Linked DNA regions of Homo sapiens: region 2 is linked to region 1. The links come from fine-mapping of genetic effects on gene expression. A gene starts in region 1. The other region holds a variant in brackets. All regions are shown on one strand. Distances are between the middles of the regions. Region 1 holds the start of PDC-AS1 (PDC antisense RNA 1). Region 2 overlaps PLA2G4A (phospholipase A2 group IVA).

Region 1 (11,988 bases):
ACACACAATTTTATCAATTAAGTTTGCCATCTTATATGGGCATGGTTCATGGAACCCCAAAACAATTATAATAGTGACATCAAAGTCACTGATTACAGATCACTGTAACAGATATAATAAGGCTGGGCATGGTGGCTCATTCCTATAATCCGAGCACTTTGGCGAGTAAATCACTTGAGCCTGGGAGTTCAAGACCACTCTAGGCAACGTGATGAAATCTTGTCTCTACAAAAAGAAAAACAACAACACCAAACAAAAATTAACTGGTTGTGGTTGGCACATGCCTGTAGTCCCAGCTACTTGGGAGACTGAGGTGGGAAGACCACCTAAGCCTGGGAGGCCGAGGCTGCAGTGAGCCATGATTGTGCAACTGCATTCCAGCCTGAGTGCACACACTGAGCCTGGGTGACACACTGAGACTCTGTCTCAAGAAAAAAAAAAGACAATGAAAATGAAGAAGTTTGAAATATTACAAGAGTTACCAATATGTGATACATAGACAGAAAATGAGCATATACTGTTGGAAAAATTACGATAGACTTGCTTGATGCAGGGTTGTAAAAACTTTCTACTTGTAAAAAATGAGGTATATGTGAAATGCAATAAAGCCAACTACAATAAAATAAGATATGCATGTTTAGGAGAAAGAACAGACAAAAGAGTTCCCTAAAGAAATAGTTACTACAAAAAAAAATCCACATATGACCCTTAATCGCAGTCTGTCTTTTACTACAGTGCCTCTGTCTTCCTCTTTTTCACTGTGACAATTCTGGGGACAAATAAAATGTCTTTTCTTTTACCTACCCCTACAATCCTCAATAGTCAATAGGTTCATGACTATATCACCAACATAGCTAGGAATAATCAAGCCCTATTATAATATAATGTCATTATGTTTGCTGACTCTTACCTAAAAGATTTGTCTAAATATAAATTAACCAATGCATAATAAATACCTGGTAAGTTGTTCTTGATTTCTGATTTTAACCTAATAAATAATTATGTTGGAAATATCAAGTCTGTTAATGAATATTAATCAAAGGTGGTCAATGAGGTCTCATAAAATTTATAACATTTTATTAAAAGGTAAATTAATATGTTAATAGGTATTGATTTGTTAGTTGTTAAGAACAAAGGATGAAAGTAGAGTTAGAAGTTACAGTTGTTTGTTTTTGCCATTTTGAAAGTGTTTCAGTTTCATTATTTCATTGGATTTTTATAACAGTTTTGTATTGTATGTAGGGAAAAGATTTGTTAGATTCAAATTGTATTAATATAATAGAAATAGACTTTGATTATTATTCATAAGGACACATAGAGTAGATATTTGGGTAAATAACTATTATCTTTGTCTTAATAATCAGAAGTAGATTATTTCTTCTTTTTTCATCTTTGTAAAAATATAGGTATTTTATTTACTTAACACCATTAAATGAAGCTAGATTTTGTACTGTACTATGGAACTTCTGATCCCAGAAGAGCACTGTACAAAAATCCTTAATTAAAAAGGCTTGGTATTTTAGAAAACTATCCTTTATTCAACTTGCTCAATTTGTTGAGGAGATTTTTTGTTTACAGAATGGTGAAGAGGAACTTAATGATAGAGATGAAGGTAGTTTAATCAGGTCTTAGATTCTATTTTAGGCAAATCCAATTTAGTTGTAGAAACACCAGATGCCTACCCCCATGATTAAAATTCTGAATGTCAATAAGCTAAGATGTTAGACTGCAATTTCTGTGTTTAACAAAAATAACCAACATAATTTTAATATTTTTTTCTGTGCTTTCAAGTTAGCACTATTAAAATATTTTCTAGTTTTTAATTATAAGTAGTTAATAATTATGGAGAATTGAGTTATATTCCTAGATCTGCCAAAAGAAAAATAATAAAACCTTGTGAAGTCAGTTAATTCCTTTGATCTTTAAGTGGGAACAAATTCTAACATTACACTAACTCTCAATAAATAGTGCTTTACAGTTTACAAAGTATTTTCATTTCTATGTCACCCTCCCTCCCTTTTTTTTTTTTTGTTTTAATAATTCAGAAACAGGTTCAGGAAAGTCATTTTCTAAGCCTAAATATTACTGTGCATATACAGATTAAGGGGAAACATACTGATGAAAGGGAATAATTAAGCGTGTAGAAACAAGATAGATGACTGTACACAACTAAGAAAACATAAACATAAGATTTTTGGAATGTTGGAGAGGATACACTTTAAAGCACAGGTGGCTCTTGGCCTTTAGAGAAGGAACACCTCTTCTAGCATAATAGCTCAGAGGGGGAAGAAAATAGGTGTAAATATATACGGACTTGTAGGTGTGCTGGTGAAAAGTTGAAGATAATCTCATCTGATGCTTCAGATTTCTATAAAATTGTCAAGGTCATCTTCCAAGAGTGAAGGATGATGAAAATAAAGATTTGTAAGAAGTATTGCAAAGAATGGAATATCAAGTGGCCAAAGAAAAATCGTGGAATTGCCAGAGAGTGGTAAAAATCCTTCTGAGGTTAGTAATCACATGATTAAGTTGTGTATTTTTCCCCCAGCAATCTTTGTCTTCTCGGATTCAAGAATAGAAAAAAATGAAGAGCAATATTTGGGAGGCTTATCTAATAGACAGATGAGTTGAAATTAAAAAAGGTCATAGAAATTTAGTTTAATGATGGCCACAAAACTTAAGCAGAAAGGTAGAGTAATTAGAAGGTCAATATTTGTCAGTTGCAAGGATGGAAAAAAAGTGATACATACAAATAGCATGACCCTAAAAGATATGTAGTATTTTTATGGAAGCCAATGAGAAGAATAATCTGGGGTAAGGGATAGTGTCACTAATGATATTTGAATTCTGAAATAATACAAAATCACCATTTGCAAGCTTAAAGAGAAAGTGTACCCTCTTTGAAGAGGCAGATTTCAGTAATGGCAAAGATGTGGAAGGAATTCTTGGATAAAAGGTTGAAAATAGAGGGAAATTCTGATTTTAGAGAGCAAGGAAGTACAGACTTTCATGGGGATGGTGTAGTAGAGTATTAAGGCGAAGGGCAAGCTGGGAGTGGGCAGGAAGTAGGGAGTGGGAAAAGTTGGTAGGGGGCTTATGTTTTAGATACTGATTGTGATTAATGCAAGATTAAGAATCATGGTGGGTTCAGTTTCATAGTTTTTGAGGATGTTAGATTCTGGTTCTAATAAAGAATTTGTCTCATTCAGCCTAAGTGAGTAATTACCTCAGTGGGAACAAGTTTTGGTAGCTTCTCATATATGGCTTGGAGGTGGGAGGGGACCTAGGTATTGATGCCAGCAACTAAAGACATTAAGGCTACAGTAGGAACATAACCTATAGCTACAAACTGTGAGCTTTATATATCCAACCTTATATTCCAGGTAGAAATCCAACTTGATCATGTTTTATCTTTTACATACACTGTTGGATTTGACTTGCTAATATTTTATTTAAATTTTTTGTTTCCATACTTGTGGAAATATTAGCCTGTAATTTTCCCTTCTCATACTGCCCTTGTCCAGTTTTGGTACAAAGATTATATGAGTTTAATAAAATGAGTTGATAATTATTCTCCTTTTCTGTTCTCTGAAAAAGCCTGTGTAAAATAATGTTTCTTTTCAGATTGATAGAATTAACTTATAAATACATCTAGGCCCTGTGTTTTTTTGGGGGGTAATATTTTGTTAACTACTGTTCTGGTTTCTTTGCTGGTTACAGGGCTATTCAGACTTTCTATTTGTCTTAAATCAATTCTGGTAAATTATATTTTTCTAGAAATCTATTTTTTTTGTTTTCAAATTTGTTGGCATTAAGTTGCTCATAATATTTTATATCATTTTTATCTCAGCTCTATCTAAGCATGTGTTTTAAAAAATTTTTTTAATGTTGTTTATTTATGCTTTTCTCATAGCCACCACACCCCCTGCAGTGAATCTGGCAGATTTTTTTTTTTTTTTCTTGAGACGGAGTCTCACTCTGTCACCCAGGCTAGAGTGCAATGGTGTGGTCTCGGCTCACTGCAACCTCCACTTCCTGGGTTCAAGCAATTCTCCTGCCTCAGCCTCCTGAGTAGCTGGGACTACAGGCGCATGGCAACACACCAGGCTAATTTTTGTATTTTTAGTAGAGATGGGGTTTCACCATGTTGGTCAGGCTGGTCTCGAACTCCTGACCTCAAGATCCATCCGCCTCAGCCTCCCAAAGTGCTGGGATTACAGGTGTGAGCTACCGCACCCGGCCAGATATTTAAAAATCTTATTAGAGAACCAATTTTTGGCATGTGAATTCTATCTATAAAATTTATATTAATTTATGCATGTACTTATTTCCTTATGTTTGTACTTTGTGGGTTTGCTTTATTTTCTTAACTTAGTTGGAAACTCAGGCCATTTGTTTTAAGTCTTCTTTTGTAATTTATGTTTTTAATAGTAATATTTTCTTGATGTTCCAAAGTTTTGATATAAAATACTCTTATTTTTTTTTAAGTTTTAAGAATTTCAGATTTCCAGTATAATTTATTCCTTGAACACAGAAGTTATTTAGATGTATGTGTATTTATTATTAATAGCAAATACATATTTGTAATTAATTTCTACTTAATTGCATTGTGGTCCTAAAGAGTAATTTGTCTTACAGTATACTAGTTCATTATTAACTTTTGAAAATGTTCCTTGTGTGTTGGAGGTGGAAAAGTGGCTACTTTACTAATTATTAGTTACAATGCTTTATTTTTATTATTTTATTATTATTATTTTGAGACAGAGTCTCACTCTGTGGCGCAGACTGGAGTGCACTGGTGTGATCTCAGCTCACTGCAACCTCTGCCACTTGGGTTCAAGCGATTCTCTTGCCTCAGCCTTCCAAGTAGCTGGGATTACAGGTGCCTGCCACCACACCTGGCTAATTTTTGTATTTTCAGTAGAGACGGGTTTCGCCATGTTGCCAGGCTGGTCTTGAACTCCTGACCTCAGGTGATCCACCCACCTCGGCCTCCCAAAGTGCTGGGATTATAGGCATGAGCCACCGCGCCTGGCCAGTTGCAGTGTTTTTAATATGTCCTTTAGATCAAACTTGTTAATTCTGTGGTTAATATCTACATAGATACTAATTTTTTGTTACGCGATCTAGCAAAGGTTCAAAGAACTGCACTGAAATTTCTGATGGTGGATTGCCACTTTTTTCCTGTAGTCTGTCAGTTTTTACTATGTATATTCTGTGACATTTTATTAGCCATATATATGTTTAAAATTTTTAGATCATCCTAGTGGTACTGTACCATTTTATAGTTATGTAATAATGTAAGTAATATTATGTATATAAGATATATTTCTATATCTAATAATGCTTTTTCTCTTTAAATGTATTTGTCTGATATTAATTGATACTTGCTTAAAGAATTGTATTTGCTAGATATAGTTTTTCCATCATTTTACATCTTGCTTTTCTGTATCCTTATGTTTTGAATGTATCTCTTTTGAATAGCCAATACCTGGGTTTAAAAAATGTCTAATTAGACAATATATACCTCATAACTGTTAAATTGAAATCATTTATGGTTTTTGTTACTATTATTATGTTTGGAATGATTGCCTCTTTAAATTCTTACTCTGGAACTGGAAAGAATGGTAAAATAACTCTGGTTTCAAATAGAAACTCCTTGCTGCTCCTTCAGAGAAAGCCAAATGGAGGTTTAAAAGTCCTTTCCATTTCCCTACCAAAACAAAAGCAACAAAAAAGAAAATTAAAAATCCTCATTCTCTGGAAATGCTTGAAGAAGGGAAAAAATAAATTGGAGATACAATGATTGGCAAAAATGACATCTTTATTTATTTTTAATAAAAGATAAATGTAATGTAGAGCCATGGCCTTATTCTTCTAAACTTCTGTGGGACTTACACAGTTTATTATGTAAGTCTCTGTAATTCAAGTTACCCGGAAAGTTCAATTTCATGTGTGATTATTATTGCCTATTGAAAGTGCATCTGATTTGTTATAACAGGAACCCTGTAGGGGAAATAATTGTATGTTGTTAGCAATGAATATATGTAAACCTTTAAAAATGAATTAATGTTTTTGATATAGCATGTTTAATTCAAGCTAGTCTGTGTTCAATTATTGGAAGCAGGGAGTGAACGCTCTAAGAAATAAAATAACCTAGGGTGAAACACCTTATTTTATGAAAAACTAATTTTTAGGAGCATTTTCTTTTATACTATGTAAAAAAATCCCTGAAAGATGAACAGACTTTGACAGCTGTTATAGGTGAGAGCCTCAAGTAAAGATAAAATTAAATGTTTTCCTTAAATGCTATTGCCCAAATAATGAATATCCATAATTGAAAACTGAGATTACCTTATACTTTGCTTTGTTCTCTCTGCCAGAGTCCTACCCACTGTATTAGTTGTTAGAGTTGTGGAACTTAACCGAAGCTTTCTCTGGATTCCAGGTAACTTTGTTCTTTTGTTTTTGTTTTTTTCCTGCAGAATCGATATATGGGCCTGAAATATATTAAGGTAGATCTTCTAATCTTAGATAATCCTGAATTTTTTTGTTAATGCATTCTTTGCATTGATGATTGCCAGTATGAAGTATGCTGTGATATGAAAAGCACAGGAACCAGGGATGGGAGGCCCAAGGTTAAATTCAACCTCTATATCTTCCTGGTTGCATAACCTGGACTAGTCAGCTAACCACAAACACTTCAATTTTGTCATCCTTGAGGAGGACATATTGAAAACATTGTTCTACCTACCTCATAGAGCAATTGTGTCTCGTAGTTCTTCCAGTGAGATAATGTATGTGAAATAATTATGTAACATAACACATCATAAAAATGTTGGCTATCTTTGGTGCAACAAAGCTATTCCACAGCATGGATTATACTGTCTTTACATCAATTCTTTAGTAATTATGAACATACATAGTATTTGACTTTTATATATGTTTCAGGAATGCAATATCTAACTTATTCATGAGGTACTTTATTTTCATAGCAAGGCATATAAACAACTACCTATGACAAATGTATTTGTTCTTAAATGATTTTTCAAATTTTTGTTATTAAAAGCACAGGAGTTACTGCAGTAGCACCTATCTTGAAAAGTCAAGTTAAAATGATTATTGTTTGTGTATATAATATATGTGTGTGTGTGTGTGTATTGTGTGTGTAATTTTTTCAAATCCAATTGTTGTAAAAGATAACTGTTTTGTCATAGAGCCTGCATATTTTTATCTAAATATATGTTCGTACCATTTTAGTCATTATACTCTTTTCACGTTTTAAACTTCCAGTTAGAGACCAAACTTTTGAAAATTGACTAGAGAAATGCTGCTGTTGAGTTTACTTTCTTCTGAAAGAATATCTTTTCCTGTAATGGGAGGTACAATATTTCTGTACAGAGCTACTTCACTCCCACAAGTCATAGGTCATCAAGAAGAGCATCTACATCCCCAAATGTTTCAGAGTGTAAGTCAAAAACTCTTACAATTCCACTTCTTTTCATGTGTCTCGTAGATGTTTTAAGAATATTTTCAGCTGCATGGCTTGACAGCCTTGGGATTCCCTCACACATTCACAGTCTTTTTTGGATCAGTCTGATGTGAGCATGAAAACTGGGAGTTGTGGAGCCCACTTAGGAAATGATTGCAATTGTCCAGGAGACAGATGATGGTAATTAAGTTTCCATCAGCCTGGAACTCAGGACAGAAGATACATATTCTGTATGTAGAGGTAAGCAGTTCTTTCCTGGGGATGATTTTTACCTTCCAGAGGACAGTCGGCAATGTCTGAGGATAGTTTTAGTTGTTGCAACTGAGGGAGGGATGCTAATAGTATCTACTGGTTAGAGGCCAGGAATGCTGCTAAACATACTATAATGCACAAGACAACTCCCCACAGCAAATAATTATCTGGTCCAAAATGTAAACAGTGGTGATTTTCAGAAGCCTCGGTGTAGATGGTACCTGAAGTCGTCAGAGGGAATAACAGCATCTGAAGTGTGAGGGAGGAGACTAATCCAGAAAAACACCAATAGACAAGGAGCATGCATGCCCCCGGTCACAGAAGCAGAGAAGAATCTGTAGAGTGGTATTATGAAAACCAAAGTGAGGAAAGAATTTCAATTTGGGATTGGTAATCAGCATTCAATGTAGCCGAAAGTTAAGTAAGATGAGGACTGTTGAGTCTAACAGGCTTGGTGGTTAGGTGGTGTATTGGATATTCTCCATTTGCTTCTTAAAATTCACGTTCTATCTTTCTCCATCCTGTTTTATCCCTAGAGAAGGTTGACTTAACAGACTTCATCAACAGGGTTCTCTTGTCCTCTGGCTTTCAGCTGGATTCTGACAATGAAAGGTTCTGAAAAGAGATAGAAGAGCACGAGGAGAGAGTGCAAGTTGTTTTTCCCTGAAGCTCTGTCCCTCCTGGGCCACAGAGTGACAGGGGCAGTGTTTCTCTTCCAAAAGCAAAAGCTCCTGTTGGGCAGCTTTTTCCTATAGCTGCAGGTCTCACTGGTTTCTTGCCCCCTCCAGGCCTGTGGGTAGGAGTCACTTTCACCTGTTAATAGGTGGTGCTTCACTATCTTTTGTTAGTTTCCTGCCTAGACCCTTGTAAACAGTCTTTTTTTTTTATTATACTTTAAGTTTTAGGGTACATGTGCACAATCTGCACGTTAGTCACATATGTATACATGTGCCATGTTGGTGTGCTGCACCCATTAACTGGCCATTTAACATTAGGTATATCTCCTAATGCTATCCCTTCCCCCTCCCGCCACCCCACAACAGGCCCTGGTGTGTGATGTTCCCATTACTGTGTCCATGTGTTCTCATTGTTCAATTCCCACCTATGAGTGAGAATATGTGGTGTTTGGTTTTTTTGTCCTTGAGATAGTTTCCTGAGAATGATGGTTTCCAGCTTCATCCATGTCCCTACAAAGGACATGAACTCATCATTTTTTATGGTTGCATAGTATTCCATAGTGTATATGTGCCACATTTTCTTAATCCAGTCTATCATTGTTGGACATTTGGGTTGGTTCCAAGTCTTTGCTATTGTGAATAGTGCTGCAATAAACATACATGTGCAAATAGTCTTCTTTAAACTCCCTTCAATCATACCTTTTCTGTTTGTGTTGTTTCCTTCCAGGGACGTGCCTGACACAGAGGTCATTGCTGATCTGTATCAGAACCACTTTCAGTGGAATAGTTGAGGCAGATAGGTGGAAAAATAAATGGAAAGAAAGGAAGAAGATTAAATAAGAAAAATTGAATTTTTGTTTGTTTGTTTTTGCAAGGAGTTTTGGGAATGAAGAAGAGAAGGAAAATACTGGAGACAATAGGTAGTAATAATTTGGAAGAACCAAGACAAGTTTTTAAATAAGAGATAGAAAGTTGTTTTTAGGTTGTGAATAAAAAACATGGAGGGGATAGAACTGTAATATGAATAAAAAAGAAATTTGAATGTATTATAATCCAATTAAAAGCACAGATGACAATATTAGTCTCACATAGAAACACATCTTTGAGAACAATAAAATGGAAAATAGCTGAGTTAATAGATGTGGGGTAAGAAATTAGGGAAGTTCATGCCTGGTGGGCTCAGTGTCTACTGGGATGTTGAAAGAAGGTCGTTTAAGGATGTAGGAGAGGGAGACTGAGGAGAATAATGAAGGTTTGGAATAGCTGCTGTGGGAAACGGAAGAGGGATCTGTTTGCAGAACAAGCTATGGACCCCAGTTGAAGAGCACTGATTGGTTGATATATGTATGAAATTTTGAGGAAGATACAATTTTGTTGAGTAGGACTTACCAGCTAGTAGTTAGGAAAAGAGAGATCAGATGGTTGAAATGATTGGAAGTTTGGGGATTTAAACGATAAGTGCTTTGGAAGAATAAAGGGATAAAAATGGGGGAAGTGCCAGCAGGAAGGTGATTGATGACATCTGTCAAGTGTTTAGGCTGCACAGGAAGGATAGAAACAGGGAAAGTGGAGAAAGGCAGTGTCAAACAGGCAAGGCTGAGAAATTGCAGGTCTTAAACAACGTGTGGTTTGGTAGAAAAGAATTGAGAGGGCCGGGTGCGGTGGCTCAAGCTTGTTATCTCAGCACTTTGGGAGGCTGAGGCGGGTGGATCACTTGAGGTCAGGAGTTCGAGACCAGCCTGGCCAACATGGTGAAACTCCATCTCTACTAAAAAAGTTAGCCAGGCTTGGTGGCAGGCGCCTGTACCCCAGCTACTCGGGAGGCTGAGGCAGGAGAATCGCTTGAACTTGGGAGGCGGAGGTTGCAGTGAGCTGAGATCATACCATCATTGCACTCCAGCCCAGATGACAATGTGAGACTCCGTCTCAAAAAAAAAAAGAAAAAAGAAAAGAAAAAAATGAATTGAGAGAACTGGAAGGGTAGATGACTATCATCAGAGAATGGTATATTGAAATTGAAGGGAAGTTGGCAGTAAAAGTAAAAAGAAGAACTGCATGCCAGAATATGTTAGTTAATCAGAGGGGCATGAGTGGATGACAGTTTCTTCACGGAAATCCAGTATAAGCTGGGTTCCAGAATATAAGATCTCAACATTAATAAATAAGTAAAATTAAAATGTCACTATATCTTTTAATTTAAGAAATGTGTGCTCCCCTCTTAGACTGTAAATCTGTTGAAAAGAAAGAATGATTATATTATACATTTTCATCATCTCTTCTATTATTTAACATAATTCCTTGTATGTATTAGACACTCAGACATTTGTAGAATGTTTGAAAGGGAACAAAAATATATAAAATTTGTATCATGAGATAATGTATTAGATATATTTGAATAGATAAGTATACGATTAAATTTTATTCTATAATACATTCAGTATAAAACTTCAAAATGAATTTCTTATTTATGTGCTAAACTTTATTTTGTTTTCAGACTTAATTTAATTTGCTTATTGTGGTATCTACAGTCATTCTGAAATGGCAGTTTTTTGGGACTTCTCTCTTTCAATTCACATACATGAAAGTTTGAATAAGTTTCTAATACAGAGAAATGTGAGTGGTGTGTTTAGCATAGATTAATTGAATCCCAACTTCTTAATAAATTAACTTTTATTTACATAAGCAGATCCCTAAAATCGTATATCTGTGTACTGTATGCACCATTTTACTTCATGTATATCTATTAATAATAATGAAAACTAACATTTGAGTAATGTCAGTGTCAGGTACTGCTCTAGTTTACATAATTTACTCATTTTTCCCCTCACAACAACCCAATGAACATGTGCTATTATTTTTCTTATTTTACAGATGAGGAAACAGTAGAGAGGTTAACTAATTTGCCCAAAGTCATGAAATCAGTGAATGAATTAAAACTTAGGAGATCTGGTGTTCAAGATACTAACCACCATTACAGTATAGACACATGGATACAAATGCCGATGCGTTTATCTTTGATTGCTTGTTTGATGTTTGTTTTCTTTACCTTAAGATCTCTGAGATCAAGGACACTGGCTGTTAAATGGCATCTTATCAATAAGTATGTTGTGAACAAATAAATGAATGAGCTTCTGACTTTACAGGATAATTTTGCTATTTCCTCCAAAGTTTCCTATTAGTTTACAGCTAACACTCTTGGCTTTTCCTTCAAGTCCATTCCAGTTATTATTTGGGTGATTTGTTATGAGACATGTTATGACATTTTAAGCCTTTACATTTAAAACATCATCCTTTTGCTGAGACAATAATGATCTCTTCTTCTCCTCCTCCTCCTGCCAAAAGAATTGCAGATTAAGTGTTTACACGAGGGCAGTTTGTAATCCAGTATTTCTGCAGCAGCAGGCTTCAAATATTCTAGGCAAATCCTGCTTTTTGTTCAACTCTTCCTGATGAGTGTTGTGATTAAAGCTTCACCTTGGCATCCATTAGTCATCGAGTGCTTACTTTGAGAATGGTTGCTATCATCATTTACTCTATAAACAGGTGCCACCTAGTTACTTTTGTTTT
Region 2 (11,988 bases), 460 kb after region 1:
GTCATAAAAAAGTCTGGCATTCAGTCAAAGGTTGACTGAATTATAAATATTCAGCGGCTTATAGAATATGAGTGTAACAAAAATAAGATCAAGAAACAAACAGATCCACAAGTATTGGATATGGATCTTAAAATAACTAAGAGTAATATGTTCAAGAAAATAGATGCTAAGATGGAGGATTTTACCAGGAAACCAGATATATACAAAATAATCAAATGGAAAATTTTAAACTGAAAAACACAAGAAATTAAGAACTCAGTAGATGGTTTTACTGTAGTTTGAAAACAGTTAAAGAGAGAATTACTGAACTGAAAAATAAGTCTATAGAAAATATCCAGACTGAAACACAAAAGACAAATAAGGAAATAAAATATAGAATAAAAAGCTAAGGAATATCTGGGGTATGACAAAAAGCATTGGGAAGAGAGAGGGAATAGGGCAAAAGTAATATTTGAAAATATAATGGCTGGGTATTTTCTGTAGCCAATAAAATATATTGAAAAGCAAATGACCAAGAGTGGATTTCTCAACAAAACAGAGAGGAACCATAAGATATTAGTTGACATCTTTGAGGTGTGGAAATAAAGCAACTGCCAGTATAATCCTGAAGATATTGAACAAAGTTCCAGGACTTAGACTACCTGATATTACAATTAATATAAAAATATTATAATTAAGACAGTTTGGTATAGGCGTGGTATAGATGCAAGCTTAAATGATAGATTAATGGACTAATAGACAAACGAAGTCCAGAAACAGACTTACACTTTTATGTGACCACTTGATTAATGCAAAGTTTATACTGCAATGCAAGGGCTAAAGGCAGTATTCCCAATAAATAATGCTGGGTCTATTGGTTACACAGGGAAAAAGACTGAATCCTAACTCCTACCTCATACCTCAACCAGCTTAGTACATGGGTAGCGAAAAGGTTGACAATCGTAAAAGCTGCTCTAAGATCTCTGTGTGTAATTAGCAATGTTATTACATCATAAATATATCAAAGGAATGACCACATCTGAGAATAGTATTCAGAGGCATTTCGTTCAACAAATTTTCATTTAAGTTTTGGTCTTACTTCTTCTCGTTTAGTCATTTCTACTTTGTTGATAATTGAAGCATAACATTTGAAGAGCAGTCCATCACCTTAAACAGATTGCCAACTAACACACCCACACTTAATTTATTCTTGCATTTATTTTCTCGTGGCCATTTGAAAATGTATTTTATGTCTGGAGAGAAATAGAAGTAAATGACTGGACTGGGCTTAATCTAGTCTATGGGCAGAATAACTCCTTGACAGAAGAACAGTAACTTTGTTGCCTTCTCAATGTCAAAATGTTTGTAATTTTTCTGTGGGTGTTATTATACTCCTGTTCTTTAGTTCCTCGTAATATTATACCTTAAGCCCCTGTTCTTCAAATGTCTGAATAATAATCACCTGGTCAATTGTCAAAATGCAGATTTCCAGGCCCATGCTGGAGAATATGATTGAAGGTGCTAAGGTTCTGCATTTTTAACGGCACTGCAGATGAATCCGTGAAGGTCATGGTATTTCAATGGACTACATTTGGGGAAACACTGTTTTAAGCTCACTGTCATTGAACCATAGGTATTCAGAATGGGCCATATTTTGACTACACATTTGGGAGGACTTTCCCCTTTGGGATTTTTTTTTTCCTATTTATCACAAGAATTGTAACAAATTACTTGTAATCTGTTTTTCAAACAAGAGGTTTAAGTTGCTACTGATGAAGGGGAAATAGGCAAATAGAGAATATTTAAAATAGAGCTAGGAGTTTAGAAGCTGCCATGAGTTCATGAATCACATGATATATTACTTGGACAAAGCTGAAATGACAAATGGGTCTGTTATGACTTCAGGCAGGCGCTCCTTAAACTCCTGAAGTTTAGTAGTAAGTTTTACCACCCTGAAGCTATTTCTGGTGCATGTAGTTTCATGTCAACTTTATGGGAAGAAAAAAGATCTGTATTCCACACCCCCGACATTTTTTGTTTGTCAAGATTTAGATAAAAGGATGAGATGTAAAAGGGGTTTTTGCCCACATATTACATCTTTGCTTCACCACATGTTTGGCTGAAAATAATGAAGATGAGGCTGAGTTAGTGACTCAACACGCAATTGCCCTATAGGTGTTAATTGACAAAGCCATGAAATAAGTATAATGTACAGGAAAAAACAAATTCTACATTTAACTTTTTCTTTAATTCATTCCTTGAAACTTCTCTAAAGTATTGGGCTGTGTTTACTGTCAAAGTGGGCTGCCTTCCTTTTCAAATCTTCTAATTCTGTTTGCTACCATGCCAGTGATGGTTATAGATTATGCAAAGAAACTGAGCTATGTGATTATTGTAATCCAACTTTAAACTAGCCTCTTAAAACTTATTTTTATCCTATCTACCACTGTTATAGATATTTCTTAGCTTACAATGATTAGAGCTGATGCAGATTGCAAAATCAAAGTGTGCAGTTTTGGTAGTTTTCCACTGTCCAGCATCCTTTGACATCTTAACTCTGAAGTCTCTGGCTAAAGAATCAAGAGGAGAAATTAGAAACGCTGCCACTCTGGACATACATTTTAGAAAGCTGACTTACTTTCAAAGTAAAATTAAATAATGCAAATCCAACATGACAGCTATTAAACTGGATTCTGATTTTTTAAACAAAGTCTGTGGATGTTTTAATATATAAACATGGTGTGGGTATTGTTTTTATGGTATTTTCTTTATCATTTTGTCAGAATTAGAATTTGTTAAAAATATGACCCATTGAGAATCTAAAATGGCTGAGAAGATGGGTAGATAATGGTTTGACTCATGGTGCTTCTCAATTTGTCCTTTCCTTTTCCCATCTGGTGCCTTCCAAGGAACTTCACTTGCAGCTTGCTCCTTCTTGTTTGGGCCAAGTAGACCTCACCCTCCTCTTTCCCAAAGATTCAAGTAAAGATTAAGTCTGAAAAGGCAATTTCCCCACCTACGATTTGACCTTATTTGTGTGTAATAATCTGGGTGACTGAGTTACTAGTCACTGGGGTAGTGTAACTGCTTATCTTCAATTTACCTTGCCTCTAAAATTAGGCTATTAACATTTGACTCACTTCCATAATCCGAATTTTCAGTTTAGTGTTTGGCTCCCTATCAAGGCTGAACTGCTTGTGAATGAGCAATGCCTGGCATATAGTAGGCACTCATGTATTTGTTGAATGAATGAATGATGTTTGCCATTTGCATGCCTCCCCTTCCCACACACTCTTGTATTCCACGTTGGTTTTTGCTTGGCTTTGTTTTTTTTCTATTACTTCTTGGAAAATGGTTAAAAAAAAGAGCATTGGCCTTATGAGAAAAATCTGGCCCTATGAGATGATGTAGGGCTATGTTTTGTAACACATAATTTGAAGCATTAATTGAATACTTTCCTTAAAATTACATATTTTTCTTGATAATTTTCTACCAACTGCTATTCTAAATATGGAGTTTTACTTCTGATTTGCAATCCTGAGCACTGGTGATATGGTAGAAACATGGTTAAGGAAAAGAAGCAGTCACCTCCTGGTTGAAAATGTGATAATGTTACCCTATGACATGTTCTCTTCTTCTTTGGCCCATTTCACCTTATCATCCTTCCCACTCAATCTTTTTGTTCTCTAATTTGTATTCCATGGTCCTGTTGAGAGTTATAAGCACTGAGTTAGAAATGAGAATGACTGGCTTTCCCCTTTTGTCTAAAATAGGATATCAAAAGTGTGACCAGAAGATGATCCACATCAGTGTCAGCTAGACTATTTGTTAAAAATTGCAAGCCCTTAATTCCACTACAGATATGCAGACAATGGGTCTTCGGGGATGAAGGTCGGGGTCTATGTTTTTACAATAACCCTGGGCATTTGTGTTGCACTCTCACTTTTGCCCCACTGCTCTTTACCAATGATGTATAAGGTCCAAGCCGGAAAATTAAAGGCAGCCTCAAAGGCTGATACCTTGTTTGTAGATCCTCCCGTTTTATAATAACAACCACTAAACATACACATGCATCTAAAGAAGCTGATGACTACATAAAGAACTAGGAGCAATACTGAACAATTAAGTGAAAGACATTGATTACGTTTTTTGATGACCATAGCTGTTGTTGACAGACAACATCTATTTAAATTTTTTTGGGGGGGAAACCCAATCAATAGGTCAGAAACTATTATTTTTGCTTTTCCTTTATTTTCAACTGTTGGATCTTTTTGTTTAGACCTCTGTACTTCTTCTCTCCCCCCTCCCTCCCTCACTCTTGCACTCACCCTCTCTTTCTCTTCCTCTAATTCCAGCTCCTCTTTCCATAGAATCCATACCCTGTAATCTAATTTTTGTTACTGAGGAACATGATGTAATAAGAGAATGATTGTTGTAGTCAAATGACCCAGGTTCAAGAACTTGACCTGATACTTATTAGCTATGTGATATTGGACAGAATGCTTAATATTTCTCAGTTCCTGTTACTTTAACACTAAAATAAAGTACTTACATTATAGCGCGATTGTGAGATTTAAATGAGACTAATGTGTGTAAAGTACTTAACACAGATCCCTGTAGTCATTACTTAGTTATTTGTTGTTTTTGTTATTAATTATAATGGCCGCATGGAAAAGCACCTGTTAAACGGGAAAGTCAAGTCGATAGGTTAGGAAACCTTAAATATTGTAATTGTCGCTTTCTGTTGTTAGCTTCTGAAGATGTACAGCTGAGGAAGACAAGATCTTTGCCCTCAAGTTGTTTATAGTCTTGTAGGAAAAGACAGATAGATGTATAATTTCATCCATAAAGTATAGTGTGTCCAGTGCTGTAAGACATTAAAGGATTCGGTGGAATCCTAAAAAAGGAGTGATCAATACTTGCACAGTTTGGGTCACTCGCTTTGTTGCTAAGTGTATATGTAATGGGAGGAAATTAAAATAATTTCTTTATTTGCAATTGTTTTGTTCTATTTCAGTGGGCACACATATCATACCCTGATTCAAGTGGGTATTTATGTGAAATAGAAAAAACCGTTACTGGCCGGGCATGGTGGCTCATGCCTGTAATCCCAGCACTTCGGGA[G/A]TCTGAGGCGGGCAGATCAGGAGGTCAGGAGATCGAGACCATCCTGGCCAACATGGTGTAACCCTGTCTCTACTGAATATACAAAAATTAGCCGGGCATAGTGGCATGTGCCTGTAATCCCAGCTACTCTGGAGGCTGAGGCACGAAAATTGCTTGAACCAGGAGGCCGAGGTTGCAGTGAGCTGAGATTGTGCCACTGCACTCCAGCCTGGCAACAGAGCAAGACTCTGTCTCAAAAAAAAAAAAAAAGGAAAAGAAAAAAATTGTTGCTTCATAGAGACACCTCATTTCCATCTGAATATTGCCATAATAAATACATGTTGATTTTTAATATGAGTGCCACCCCTTAAAGTTGTTCAGTGTACAACCTGTACAACCATACAAGGCAACTCTATAACAATAAACAATATTCTTCTCACAATGACTTCCATTATTTTATCTGATAAAGTAAGCAGGATGATTTTTCTAACATTGACAAATATAATCTTTTTTTTAAAAAAAAGTATTTTTCAATTTTTTTTCTTTTTTACTTTTTACTTTTACTTTTTAATTTTTATGGGTACATAGTAGGTGTATATATTTATGGGGTAAGTGAAGTGTTTTGATATAGGTATGCAGTGTAAAGTAATCACATCATGGAGAATAGGGTATCCATCCTCTGAAGCATTTATGATTTGTTGCAAATAATCCAATTACACTCTTTTAGTTACTTTTAAGTGAACAATTAGGTTATTATTGACTATCGTCACCCTGTTGTGTTATCAAATAGCAAGTCTTATTCATTTTTCTGTTGTGTTTTTTTTGTATCCATTAACCATCCCCACCTCCCCTCCAGCCCCCTACTACCCTTCCCAGCCTCTGGTAATCATCCTTCTGCCCCCTCCATGGGTTCAACTGTTTTGATTCTTAGATCCCACAAATAAGTGAGAATATGTGCTGTTTGTCTTTCTGTGCCTGGCTTATTTCACTTAAGATAATGACTTCCAGTTCCATCCATGCAAATGGCGAGATCTCATTCTTCTTTATGGCTGAGTAACACTCCATTGTGTATATGTAACACATTTTATTTACCCATTCATCTGTTGATGGACACTTAGGTTGCTTCTAAATCTTAGCTATTGTAAATAGTGCTGCAATAAACACAGGAGTACAGATATCTCTTCAGTATACTGATTCCTTTTTTTTGAGTATATACTCAGCAGTGGGATTGCTTGGTCATATGGTAGCTCTATTTTTAGGTTTTTGAGGAACCTCCAAATTATTCTCCATAGTGGTTGTGCTAATTTACTTTCCCACCAACATTATACAAGAGATCCCTTTTCTCCACATCCTTGCCAGCATTTGTTATTGCCTGGATATAAGCCATTTTATCCAGGTGAGATGAGATCTCATTGTAATTTTGATTTGCGTTTCTCTTATGATTAATGATGTTCAGCACTTTTCATATGCTTGTTTCCCATTTGTATGTCTTCTTTTGAGAAATGTCTATTCAAATCATTTGCTCATTTTGTTGGTTACATTATTAGATGTTTTTCTACAGTTTTTTGAGCTCCTTATATATTCTGGTGATTAATTTCTTGTCAGATGGGTAGTTTGCAAATATTTTCTCCCATTCTGTGGGTTGTCTCTTCATTTTGTTGATTTTTTTTCCTTTGGTGTGCAAAAAAGCTTTTTAATTTGATGTGATCCCATTTGCCCATTTTTGCTTTGGTTGTCTGTGCCTGTGTGGTATTGCTCAAGAAATTTTTGCCCAGACTGTTCTCCTGGAGATTTTCCCCAATGTTTTCTTGTTGTAGTTTTATATTTTGAGATCTTAACATTTAAATTTTTAATCCATTTTTATTGATTATTGTATATGGCAAGAGATAGGAGTCTAGCTTCATTCTTCTGCATATGGAGATCCAGTTTTCCCAGCACCATTTATTGAAGAGACTGTTTTTTCCCCAGTGTATGTTCTTGGCACCTTTGTCAAAAATGAGTTCACAGTAGGTCTGTGCATTTGTCTCTAGCTTTAAGCCCATGATCTTGTCACTATCACAGTCCTGGGTGAAGGTCATGTTGGCGTTAGCTGGGTGACATTGTTATCATCCTGTAGTAGCTTGACTGAGATGTTGACTGCTTTGAACCTGTCCTCTCTAGATAGATGGAGGAATTCTGAATAAATCACTTAATAAACAATTCCCTCTCACAGGACTATTATGAAGGACAGCGACATATGTAAAAAGTATCTACCCTATGATGTTTTTCTATTATGTGTATATTATCTTGTCTCAGACATTTAAATACATCACTACAGATTCATTGAGAATAAACTGACAACATATATTAATAAAAAAATTAGGAACTATGAATCACATTTCTACCTCCTTCTTGTTTGTGTTTACTATCTGTAGTTGATACTCCAGATCCCTATGTGGAACTTTTTATCTCTACAACCCCTGACAGCAGGAAGAGAACAAGACATTTCAATAATGACATAAACCCTGTGTGGAATGAGACCTTTGAATTTATTTTGGATCCTAATCAGGAAAATGTTTTGGAGGTAAGTGAACCATTTGGATGCTGTTAGATGGTTGTGATTCATGTTGAGAGACATGCTTGAGTTTGTCCTTTTACTGCCTTTTTGTTCCTGTTAGCTATAGTTGGAGTTAGACTGGGCAGCTTGGTAGACTAGAATCTAAATGGTGTCTGTCAAGTAATATGAGTGTCTATCAGGACATACAGGAGTTAGGTAGGGTTGGGAAAACTGCTGTCCTCCCCACGTGCTTTGGAGAAAACATATTTTCTGCTATCAAGGAGAGAATCCCAGTATAACAGAATAAAAATATTTTAAATTGCCTTTTTAAAAAGTGAAAATTAATTTTTCCCAAAATATTTGTATCGATTTTCTGCATTAATATCTTTCTCATATTCCAAAGTAGAGAGGAGATAAAGTTTCGTTTTTGAAAACATGATAATTGAATAAATCAATCAGGAAAATGTGAAAAATTATTATCTTATAGCAAACACAGTACTCAGAAGGAAAAGATTGGCCGGGCACTGTGGCTCACCCCACAGCATTTTCAGAGCACCAAGGCAGGCAGATCACTTGAGGTCAGGAGCTCGAGACCAGCCTGGCCAACACGGTGAGACCCTGTCTCTATTAAAAATACAAAAATTTGCTGGATGTGGTGGCGCTTGCTTGTAATCCCAGCTACTCAGGAGGCTGAGGCAGGAGATTCGCTTGAATCTGGGAGGTGGAGGTTGCAGTGAGCCGAGATCCCGCCACTGCACTCCAGCCTGGTGAGTGAGACCCTGTCTCAAAAAAAAAAAAAAAAAGGAAAAGATAAAAGTATTGTTACTAATTAAATATTGAGATCTTCAAGGACTCTTAAATATCATTTGAGAGCTTCATTTTTTTAAATGTGGTGGAAATTATAGATGTCATTTCCAAAGATCCATGGGAAATTTTATTTTTGTGCTTTACATTTTACTCTGTAGATTACGTTAATGGATGCCAATTATGTCATGGATGAAACTCTAGGGACAGCAACATTTACTGTATCTTCTATGAAGGTGGGAGAAAAGAAAGAAGTTCCTTTTATTTTCAACCAAGTAAGTAACACTGCAGAATTATATTCCAACCTTATGTTAGATAAAGTCTATTGATTCTGGGAAGTTGGGTTTAACACTTGGAAAATTGTATTTATTTGTTCATAGAATGTTTGCTTTTTAAAGAGAAAATTTTGTTTTTCTTTTTACTTTTTGTCCTAATTTTAAAAATTATTCTGACATCTATAAACTTTGGTTGAGGTATTATACCAAACACTACTAAGGCTTTAATCTCCTTTGTTGCTCCAAATGATGACATTGGGATTCAGCAATGCCTTTGGACTCTAATGGCAAAATTTAATACAAAAAATTGGGGAGGATAAAAAGACATGCAAAATCTGAGAGCTGGGGGCAGAGAGAGAGAGAGAGAGAACAAGTAAACAAACTCAGTGGAAAATGTTAGGAAATTCAGACTATTCCAAAACCACATGTTTAGTAATAAATCTCTCTGGGGGAATATTTCTGTCTCAGAGAATCCTCAAGTAAATAGGGACAAAGCAGTGAAAGGCCAAAAGGATTGATGGGAGGTTATTGTTATCTTTGACTTTCTAGGTTTGCTACATTTCTGAAATTTTGATAGTTTATTTTGGAATAATGAAACCTTAGGTAAATAATTTTGTACAGAATAAACTCATTGGATTTTGAATTCTGTAAGAAACTAATTTAGTAGTTTGTAGTAAGAAATGTAAACAACTGGTGGGCCTGTATGTGTAAGGCTGGTTACCATACTAATTTCTTGTTGTTGGGAGAGACAATGTGTCTCTGCGCATCTTTAGAATGACTTTCCAAGTCCCTACATTCACCTCAACCTACCTCTCCCTTAACTCTCAGCTTCTCCATGTTGCCTTTCCTGTTACTGTCCCAAATGAGTCTTCCTCCTTTGAGTCTCCATGATAATTATCTATGGTATTCATTGGGACTACATTATTTATACTGTTCAATGTTTCATTTTCCTCTTGTAAACTAAAATCCTCTAAGTCAGGAAACTTGAAATACTGATTAAATGTGCCTACAGAATTAATTACATAGATGACATTTATGGAATGAATGTGTACCTATTTAGAAACCAACTTAGCCCAAATGAGCTTCTTGACTAGTCCATGCAATCAGAATGGCCCAGGTACCTTGAGGATGCTCTGGTCCATGCACTCCTTGGTGCTTCCACCTGCTGCAGAAAGCATTTCTTCTGTCTCATGCCAAGAGATGCACTCACCACAATTCTGTCGACCCCTTTTAAAGCTATTTCATTCATTCCTTTTACAAACATTTATTGAAGATCTGCTGTGTGCCAGCCATTGTGTTTTGTTCAAGGAATATAGAGAATAAGGTACAGGAAGTTCTTCCCTCAATTATCTCCCTCTGGGAAGGAGGTGAGTAAAGGTTGAAATGAGAAGTGGAAGTAGGGAGATACATACGTGTGATAAAAAGAAATCCCCAGACAGTGAGATAAGTACCAATGAGACATGTATAGAGTGCTATGGGAAGGCAGAATAAAGAACGATTGTGTTGTGAGAGGAGGCTAGGGATGCCTCCATAGCAGTAGCTGATTTTGAACAAGTTGAACAGTGAACTGTGGTTAACACTTTGGCATTGAAAGACAGGCTGTTTGGTGTTTAAATTCCAGTTCTGTTCCTTGCCATCTGTTTTATTCTGGGAAAATAACACTTAACTCTTCCGTTCCTCAGTTTAATCATCTGTAAAATGGAAATAATATTTTCTAAGGGAATCATTATGATTAAGCAAGTTAATTTTATTTATGTATATATAATACATGCATATGATAATATATAATATAATGTATATTACATATGAATACATTTAATTATAATTTGATATATTTTATGGTTCAGTATATACTGACATATTATTTAGTTTATATATTAAGCATATAATTCAATAAGTGATTGAAAGTGATTAAAAGTATGTTAATACTATAAAGTAATTAAAATAAGTGATTAAATATATCGATACTATACACATATAGATGTGCACATGTATACATACAGGGCTTAGAACAGTTTCTGGTACGTATTAGGCACTATATAAATGTTACTTGTCATTGTTGCTGTTATTACACCTTAAGAAAAGAGCAGGATTTCATCAGTAAAGTAGTTATGAGCATTCTGGGCAGAACAGATTGCTGAAGGCCAGAGTCTTGAAAGAAGAAAGCAAGCTGGGGCATAGCAAGATAAAGGGCTTGGCAGATCCATTTTGCTGAATCATAGGGAAGAGAGTGTAGAGGTGGTCAAAGGCTAAAATCTTCAGGCCTTAGTTATTGCATGTTTCTAGCATAGGCTCTCAGTAAATGTCTGTTGAGGGCTTTGGAAGCATGGATTGGACCTCCTGAAATCATTTTTCTTTTCTTTCTTCACTTTAGTTCATGATACAAAGACTGTTTTTGAGAGAAGATATTGTGGACAACATTCATTTCCTCTCCTCTGTCATTTCCTATGGCTAGATGTGTAATCCCTAGGGCTCTAAAAAGGCTTTCCACATTCCTGAATTTAAAGAAGATTATGTAACTATTTTTTTTAGTGTGCCTGAGAAAATAGTTGTCCAAGCAGGCTTTTCTTCATTACTCTGTTTTCAGACTTCTTTGTAGTTTTATCTGAATGATAATCCTTTGAGCTGCAGGGGTAGTTGGGAGAGAAGTAAGCATGATGGCTAAGGGGAGAGTCCCCTGCTTGTTCCTCAGATCATGTGGGAGTGCCCTGTGCCAGCCACCCAGCTATCCAGCCTCTGCCCTCAGCTTGGAATCCCAGTCTTCCTGATGATCTTTCTACAGTGTTTACAGAGGTTGTAAGAGAGAGAAGTTGGTGAGGGAGCAATGGGAGAGAAGAGATGTAAGCCTTGAAGATGGTTATGGCAACACAGTGGAGGAAAAACAGCACTTAGATTTGGTGAAGGGTAAACAAATTCTTCAAGGCAAAATAGTATTAGCAAAAACTCTTTCATAGTTTTGTCATCCAAACGTTAATACTGAGTCAACATAGAGTGATTTCTGTGTCTAGGAGACAGCTGGAGAAATAACAGGAGCTTCCAAATGGAGATGGGCAGATTCCCAGAGCCCTGCTTTATTCACTTGGAGTCGAAACTGGGAATTGAGAGAATGGACCCTCGTTTTGTCTCTGTCATTCATAGCTCTCCAGAATGTTTGAATTGTTATCCTTTCTTTCTGAGTCTTATTTTCTTCATCTGTAAAATGAAGGGTTGGATTAAATTTTTCTAAGCTCCTAATTTGTAAAATTCTATGACCTAGAAAGAATACTTCTCTTCTTTTAAAAATATTTTATT

What was found. PIP is the estimated chance that this variant, and not a neighbour inherited with it, causes the effect.
Region 2: its variant is fine-mapped to the expression of PDC-AS1 in lung (GTEx, PIP above 0.99).

What each region holds. Positions count from the first base shown.
Region 1 is chr1:186,428,842-186,440,829 of GRCh38, forward strand. PDC-AS1 (PDC antisense RNA 1) reads left to right here and starts at 6,320. Exons shown (of 5, transcript NR_126002.1): 1 at 6,320-6,448; 2 at 7,517-7,732. It also overlaps a transcript of ODR4 not described here.
Region 2 is chr1:186,885,515-186,897,502 of GRCh38, forward strand. PLA2G4A (phospholipase A2 group IVA) reads left to right here. Exons shown (of 18, transcript NM_024420.3): 4 at 7,497-7,645; 5 at 8,584-8,697. Among named protein-coding and RNA genes, the nearest start is that of PLA2G4A, 63 kb to the left of the region's middle. The variant G/A (reference allele first, on the strand shown) is at 5,104.